Linked DNA regions of Homo sapiens. The protein of the gene in region 1 interacts with the protein of each later gene in a pairwise test. Each region holds a gene or a part of one and is shown in the gene's direction. Other genes may lie near its edges.

Region 1 (3,425 bases):
AGGCTTTCATCTTTATATGTCTTCCAGTGCCCAACACAGTGACTTGTATATTATAGGTACGCAGTAAATATTTGTTAAGTTGGACTGACAGCTAAATAATTCTATCATTTGAGTAATGTTTCATTGAGGACAGAATTTTTGCACAGAGCATACAATTTCAACCACCAATGACTCCTGCTTGGCTGCATGCAAGAACATCAATTTTGCAGCCATGAATGTGACTAGCATTACCCACGGGTAAGTGCTGATTGACGCTAACTGTAGATGCAATGGAAATATTAATGAGCTGTTGCTTCTTAAAATGTTTAAAGGAGATTTTTGCAATATTTAAAAACATGCCAGGAATCTCAGAATGGAATCCTTTGATCAGCAAGGGCATTTGCCTTTGAAACATGTATTACTTAGAATACCAAAAGAAATTAAATTTAAATGGGGTGGGGGGCAGCTAACACAGAGAATAGCTGATTGCACAGCTAGTTGCCCTGGGTATATGTGGAGTTAGTGTTTCATTAGGCACTAGAACTTTGGGCAAATTCCTTAACCTCTCTGATCATCATTTCCCTGAATTGTAAAATGTATATTAAAATATATCACCATTGGTGTGCAAGAATTGCCTGACACAAGTGCCTGCTACCAAGCAAGCACGCAGGTGATGGTGATGGTTCTTTTTGTTCTATTGTGGCGTCACATTCAGGCATTCAGGCGGAAGCCCAGATTTCCGCACCAGCCCCAGTTGATCTGAATCCTGTTCAGATCTTCTTCTTGAAGCTGTCCATTTTTTGGATTTCTTTAATAAAAAAGATTATCTTTATCATAGGTAAAAGTGTAGAAAGATAGGTCCCCAGTGGTGGCTCGCCATGGATGATGGGATGTAGTGTGATTTTCATTTTTGTGTTGCTGGTTTGGGGATTTGGGATAAGGGTTCTTGTTTATTTTTTTTTTCTCCTCTGTACTTTCTCAGCTGTCTGAAGTGGTTATGTATTTATTGTGTCATTGTTTTTTAAGGGAAAAAAAGAGTTATCACTAAATCTCTTTAAAAATAAATTACTTTAGCATCTGCTGACAGTCTGCCAGTGTTTGCACCTATGTATTGCAAAGACAGGAATACCTCCCAGTGCCCTAGAAATTGTAGGTGAAATCTTCTGTCTGCGTCTTGAAGCTCTCAGCTGTGTGTTTGTTTTGTTCTTTTTCTAGGTTACAGCACCATGAGCCCACAGGAGGACAGTGAAAATCCTCCATGCAACAATGACCCCTTGTCAGCCGGGGTCGATGTGGGAAACCATGATGAGGACTTAGACCTGGATACCCCCCCTCAGACTGCTGCCCTACTAAGTCACAAGTTCCACCACTACCGGTCACACCACCCTACACTTCATCATAGCCACCACTTACAGGCGGCCGTCACGGTACACACTGTCGATGCAGAATGCTAACAATCTCCTCACCTCCACGCCAAGATGAGATCTGGGAGCTACAGAATGTTCTGGAAAGAAAAAGAACCGGCTTAAAACCCACAGCAAGAGACCTCCCTTGTGTTTGTGCTTTGTGCAGAGTTGTTTGAGTCATTTCCTGCCTGTCGACATGGTTAAAAACGAGAGAAACAACAACACAGTCACATTTGTGAAGATGTGAGGCTGGTTCTGAAATGGAGGGGAAATAAGCCTGATGAACAGACCTGCCATAACACTAATGGAAGGTAACAGAAGGCGAACCTCCAAACACAGAGACGGAACCTGCAAGTGAAGCTGAGCCAGAGGAATGTTCCAAAGAGCCAGAAGCATTCAGCTCTCCTTAACTGGAAGAGAGAAAAATCTGCTCACCCAGAGACTGGAATGTGGCACATGCAGATACAAATGTGTGCATTGAAGATTTCGCTTTGTTTCTTAGCGGTACCTGGATACCACAGTTGCTGTATGGAACTCATGTTATGCTCTAAACGATGCATCTCAGAATTTCTAAGTAAAGGATTATTTTTCTACTATTTATTGAACTTTCAAACATTCTCAAACTTTGGGGAAAAGGAAAGGAAACACAGGAGAAGTTTTCAGCAGTTGCCCCGAGCTGTTTTGTGTGTAATGAAGTGGTTCTTTGATTAAGGAGCTCTATTTCTTATTTAACTGATATCCCACTGCCCCACTCCACAAAATAGGAAAATGAAGAAATCTTTCTCTCTGACTTGTTTACATCATTTCACGGAAACACATCTTTGTTTGTAATGCAGTATTCTTTCTCTGTGTTTGACAGAGATGGGGAGGGGCAGAGGAATTTAAGAGGTTTTAAAAGAAATGTTATGTTTCTTATGACTTGTTTCCACTCCTCGTACAATGCTATTCTTAGGTTTCTACGAAACCTAATGTTAGAACCGCATCCTTTCAGCTAAGGGAGGGTTGGATTTATTTTCCTTGTTTTAGAGACTACAAATTTTTAAATATCCCATTTTGACTGAGAATATTGACATATAAGGGAAGAAGTTTTCTAAATTGTGAAAGTCTGGTTCTTAATTAAAGAATTTTTTTTTTAATATCACGGTTAAAAGCTGCTGCCAGTTAGCCAAGACATTATCCACCAAATTGCTTTGTGATTTATACAGGGATTAATCAAATCTGGCTACTATAACATGGGGCATTGTAACTTTAAAGTAGTGTTTTAATTACAGTGATGTATTTTAGACTCACATTTTGTGATTCAAATATGTTATAAAGGCATTCTTGCACCATGGTAAAGAATGTGTGTGGTAAATCTCCGTTTATATGTAGTTGGAAAAAATTCACTGAATAATGTTTTAATGATAGGGTATTATGATACAATGTAAAAAACAATTGGTTCTTCAGCAGTACAGAAAGTAAACTATATATGTGCTATCAGGAAACCCCTTCATACTGTGTATAAAATTGCAATCTAGTGAAATAAACCGTATGCAATGGACCATTTTAGTGGCTACAGTGATTTGTTAATGTACCACTCCTTGTGCCTCAAGGCAAGTTACATTCATTTTGTAACCTAGCCAGGTCAGTTGCCAAACTGAAAATAGACCTCCTTTCAATGCTACAGTCAACTTCTAGGGCTTCTTGACCATCTAGATCAAATATGCAAACAACTTAACAATATAATGGGATAAAAATGTATAGAACATAGCTATCCCTTCCTGAGCATCTATATCCATGTCACTAATAATAAATGGTTCTTCTCTAACTGCTAGAAGGATTAAATGAGTTTCCTGCCTTCCCAGAAAATTAAACTTCTTCATGGGATACTAGTTTGTTTCCTAAGGTTGAGAAACTCTGTGTTAGGAAATTGATTGAGGAGGGAGAAGTGCAGTGGAAACTTGGTGCTTTCAAGAAAAGAATCACAAAACTTAGAGCTTAAAAATGAAATAGGTACCCCTATAGAAACACAATAACAGAATACATTTTGTATCTTTTGGG
Region 2 (3,978 bases), on another chromosome or scaffold:
CTCTGAGCGTGCCTGCTGTGGCCGTGTAAGCGGGCATCTTTGTGAGGGAAAGTAAGCGAGTGTGTGGGGGCGCGTTTGTGGTTTGGGGGGGAGCGTGTTTGCAATGCTGAGGGAGCGAACGTGTGTGCCGTTCTTGTAGGAGTTTCCGTGAGAGTGGCAGTGGACGTGAGCCAAAGTGGGCGCGTAGTTGGATGCTCTCGGGGGGGGGGGGTGGGTCGGCTAGGGGAACTCCCGCGAGTGGGTGCACCCAACTGCGCCTCGTGAGTACCTTAGCTCTCCGCTATCTCTGGCAGTGCCCAGTCCGGGGCAGAGGGCCAGGCCCCAGCCTAGCAGCTCCCACGCAGCCCGCGCGCACAGCGCCCCGGGCGCTCCGCGCCGGGCCTAGGGGAATCCACGCGTCTCTGGACTGTGCTAGGTGCCGCGGATCAACTGTGGCCACCACACCCCCGCTCCCCCACAGCTGTCGGGGGGCCGCGCTCTAGTCTCCCTCAAAGTCACCCTTGGTGGTGGTGGTCCTCTTCCCACCCCAACCACCAGTCCCCGGGCTGTAGGAACAATTCCAAAGTCAACCCCAGGGGAAGGCTTTGGAGGTCCAGTTACCAACTCGCTTACCCCAATTCGGGTACCTGACAGCGCCCGGGGCCACGAGTGCACTCCAGGCGGGGGCGTGCCAGCGCGGGGCAGGGGCTCTCGGGTGAGCAGTGTGATTTTGGCTTCCTCCCCAAGGTGGTCCCTACCTAGGCTCAGCATTTGTTCCCCTCTCCAAACTTACTGGGGCTGGGGCCTGCAGGGGGGCTGGGGGCTGCAGGGGGCGTCAGGGAGTAGCGGAGGGAGTAGGGCAAGGAGAGAGGTGAGTGGACTGGTGGCGTAGCGGGGAACCAGGAGCCAGGAGAAGAAAAGCTGGGAGAGCGCCGAGACCGAGGAGCGAGGAAGAGAGGAAGAGAAAGGAAAGGAAAGGCGAGGGAGAGAACGAGGAGAGGCGAAAAGGAAAGGGGAAAGAGAGCGCAGAGCGCGAGCCAAGCCGAGCGCCGGCAGCGGCGGCGGCGCGGCGCGGCGCTCCACTCCGGCCTGACTCCGCACCGGCTTTTGCGGGCGGCCGGCGGCGCGGGGCCCTTTGGAAATAGAATAGCCAATGTAATCTGACACTTCAACTTGCTCGGCTCCGGGCGAGTTGATTCACTTACTCACCCCCTAACGCCGAGTTCCTTTTCACTGTCTGTGGACATTAAAAAAGCGAGCGGCGGCGGCGGGCGCCGGGGAGAGCGGGCGGCCGGGCGGCAGGCGGGCGAGCAGCGATCGGGCGGCCGAGCGAGCGAGCAACGCCGGCGCAGCGCGGTGACCCCAGCCCCAGCCGGCGCGGAGCAGGAGCCGGAGCCGAGCGGATCTCGGCGCCCTCGCTGCGCTCCTCCCGGCCCGAGCCTGCCCTACCCGGCGGTGGCGGCGGCGCGTCCTCCAGCGGCGGCAGCGGCGCTCGCAGCGCCCGGTAAGTTTGGGGCCAGAGCCAGGCGCCCGCTGGCTCCGGGGCTACCTCCCGCTCCCCGGGGACTCTCGGGGTGCAAGCGTGGGGATTGGGTGCTGGGGTTTTTCCCTTAAAGTGTCCCCCGGAGCGGGGCGACCGGCCGGCGGCGCGGGCTCCGCTCCGCTCTCCTTGGCGGCCGGGGGCCGAGGCCCGGCGGCCGGCGAGCTCCCGGCTGCGCGGAGCCGGCTTGGGCTGCGCGTGGGGGCCGGGTTTGTCAGGGTGTGCGGGGCGTAAGTGTGGTCGTGCGCGCGCGGACCCGGTGCCCGCCTCCTGCCGGCGCGCCTCCAGCCCTCGCTCCCTACACCCGGGGGCCGGGCAGGACCGGGAATCGGAGGAGGGAGGGAAGGACCGCCTCGGTCTCCTTCGCCTCCTCTGGGGAGATGCGAAGTTGTGCGCCTGTGTGTGTACAGGAACCGCTGGGGAAAGCGCTGGATTTCAGGATGGCAAGGGGTGGTGGTGTTAACTTGTGCGTCTGAATTTCCAGGGAAAACATACACTTTTGTAAATGGGAGGTGGGGGCGCGGTTAAGTTGTTTGTGTGGGAATTGCCCGGGGAAAGCTGGCGCGCGGTACAAACGAGAAACGCGGAGGTGTGTGTGCAGGGTTTTCTCCCAGGGCTTCGCAAGCCAGAGGGGCGCTCAGGCCAGTGCCTGGACGGGGCTGCCCCGGCCAGGAGGGGAGCCCAGGGGGAAGATGTGCGTGTGTGTGCGCGCGCGCGTTGCAAATACGAAAGTAATTTCCCCGTGTTCTTTCTTCCTCTCCGTCTCCGGCGGCGGTGGCCCCGGGGGAGTGGGAGGCCAGCCGGGGCGGAGGTTGGGGGGCCGGGGCTGGAGCCGGGGTCGGGGGGGGGAGGCGGGTTCTGGAAGCTTGCTTCACATTCCTGGCGTCTGGGCTGGGGAAAAAACAGTGGGGAGCGCGGCCTCGGCGTCTAGGGCGCGGGCAGCGGGCGCGCGTCGCCCCCTCGCTGGGGACATCTGTCCAGGAAGCCGGCCGGGCGGGGATAGGGCGCGGTGCGGAGGGCAGGCTCCCCGCCCTGGAGCGGTGGGGGCGCGGGCGAGGGGCGGCCGCCTTCCCGGCCATTGTGCGCCAGCAGATTTTCACGGGAGACTGCCCCGGAGCCGCCGGAGAAGGCCGGGAGCCGGCCTCAGCCCCGGGTTTAAAAGACACTCCAGGAATGTAAACAACCCGGGCGGGAGGGCGGGCGGACGGGAGCGCGCCAGGGCAGCCGGTCCGGGCCCCCCACCCCTCCCCGGGGACAGCCGGTCGGCACTGCCGCCCAGCCCTACCCCTCTACCTGCAGCAAACTTTTTCCTTCTCTGCCTTCCCTTCCCACCTCGTCCCTCCAGCAGGTCACAGAGCGAGGGCCGCTCCCAGGTGGGCCAAGGGTGCTTGGTACCCTTGCCTGACCGGGGAGGCCTGACGGCCGGGTCCCTGCTTCGGTGCCCGGAGCCCCGGCTGCGCCTGCCCGGGAGCCGTCAGCTTCCTGGGTAGGCAGTGCCCGAGTAACTGGGGCTTTGAGCCTGCCCGCCTGCCTCCCTCCCTCCCTCCCTCCCGCTGCTCCTTCCCCCGCGCGCTCTCCCCCTTCTCCTCTCCCCTGACTGCTTTTCCAATGCCCTGACATGAGGGAGGAAGATTTAACTTGGCAGCCCAAACAAATGTTCTCTCAGAGGTCCTCCAAGAAGCTGGCGGCTGGGCTGGCGGGGTGAGGGCACGGCTCGGCCAGCCTTTCCCTCCTCTCTGCTCTGCCACGGACATTTGGAGCCCTCTGGGTGGACAGCCCAGGGCATGGGAGAGTAGGGCCCAGCCCCAAAGATTTAAAAGGGCAGTGGGCGGCCGCCTGTGGAAGCCCCTGGCTCCGCGCCGGGTGCAGAGCCGCTCCGAGCTGCCTCCTGGTGCCAAGGGTTTTCTGAAGGATTTTCTTGAGCAACAGTTTGTCTCCCTGCTGCAACCTGGGAACCGGGCCTGGTAGACCAGAGGGTTAACCAGTGCCGACTCCTCCTCCCTGGTGGGTGTGAGGACAGGCTGGTTACACAGGGCAGGGCAGGAGGCCAGAGGCTGTTCCCAGAGGTGCCTGGGTTTGCTTATTACTGTTTTTGAAGGTACAGATAAAGAGGCAGGCGCCGGGGCTGGAGAGCCGGGCAGCTTGGCGCTGGTGAATTCCAGCCTGCGTTCGCTGGCGCTTGTACGGTCCCGGGAGTGTGAAGCTGCTGTTGAGCTATCGGGGAAGTTGAGATGAGAGAGCAAGCTCTTTCTTAGCCTTCTCAGCCCCGGCTGCTTTGTGAGGGGGTCCAGAGTGGGGGAAATTCCTGGCCCCTCACTTGCTGGCTCCTGGCCCCAGTGCAGGGGCCGGGTGGGTTTGTGAATACCCCAAGCCTTGGGCTGACCTTTCCCTCTTCAAGTCGAGGATGTTGAAACATCAGCATCAAACAAAAGACACATTGAAAGCCCTATCTGCTACAG

The links. The genes of interacting proteins can lie anywhere in the genome.
Region 2: the proteins of CACHD1 (region 1) and ZMIZ1 interact in a two-hybrid assay, tested with the Homo sapiens proteins (one large-scale study listed by IntAct).

What each region holds. Positions count from the first base shown.
Region 1 is NC_000001.11:64,690,129-64,693,553, forward strand, and holds the end of CACHD1 (VWFA and cache domain-containing protein 1 isoform 1 precursor), read left to right. Parts: intron 1-1,194; coding exon 1,195-1,433; 3' UTR 1,434-2,925; downstream 2,926-3,425. UniProt on the Homo sapiens protein: May regulate voltage-dependent calcium channels.
Region 2 is NC_000010.11:79,067,788-79,071,765, forward strand, and holds the start of ZMIZ1 (zinc finger MIZ domain-containing protein 1), read left to right. Parts: upstream 1-1,178; 5' UTR 1,179-1,483; intron 1,484-3,978. UniProt on the Homo sapiens protein: Acts as a transcriptional coactivator. Increases ligand-dependent transcriptional activity of AR and promotes AR sumoylation. The stimulation of AR activity is dependent upon sumoylation.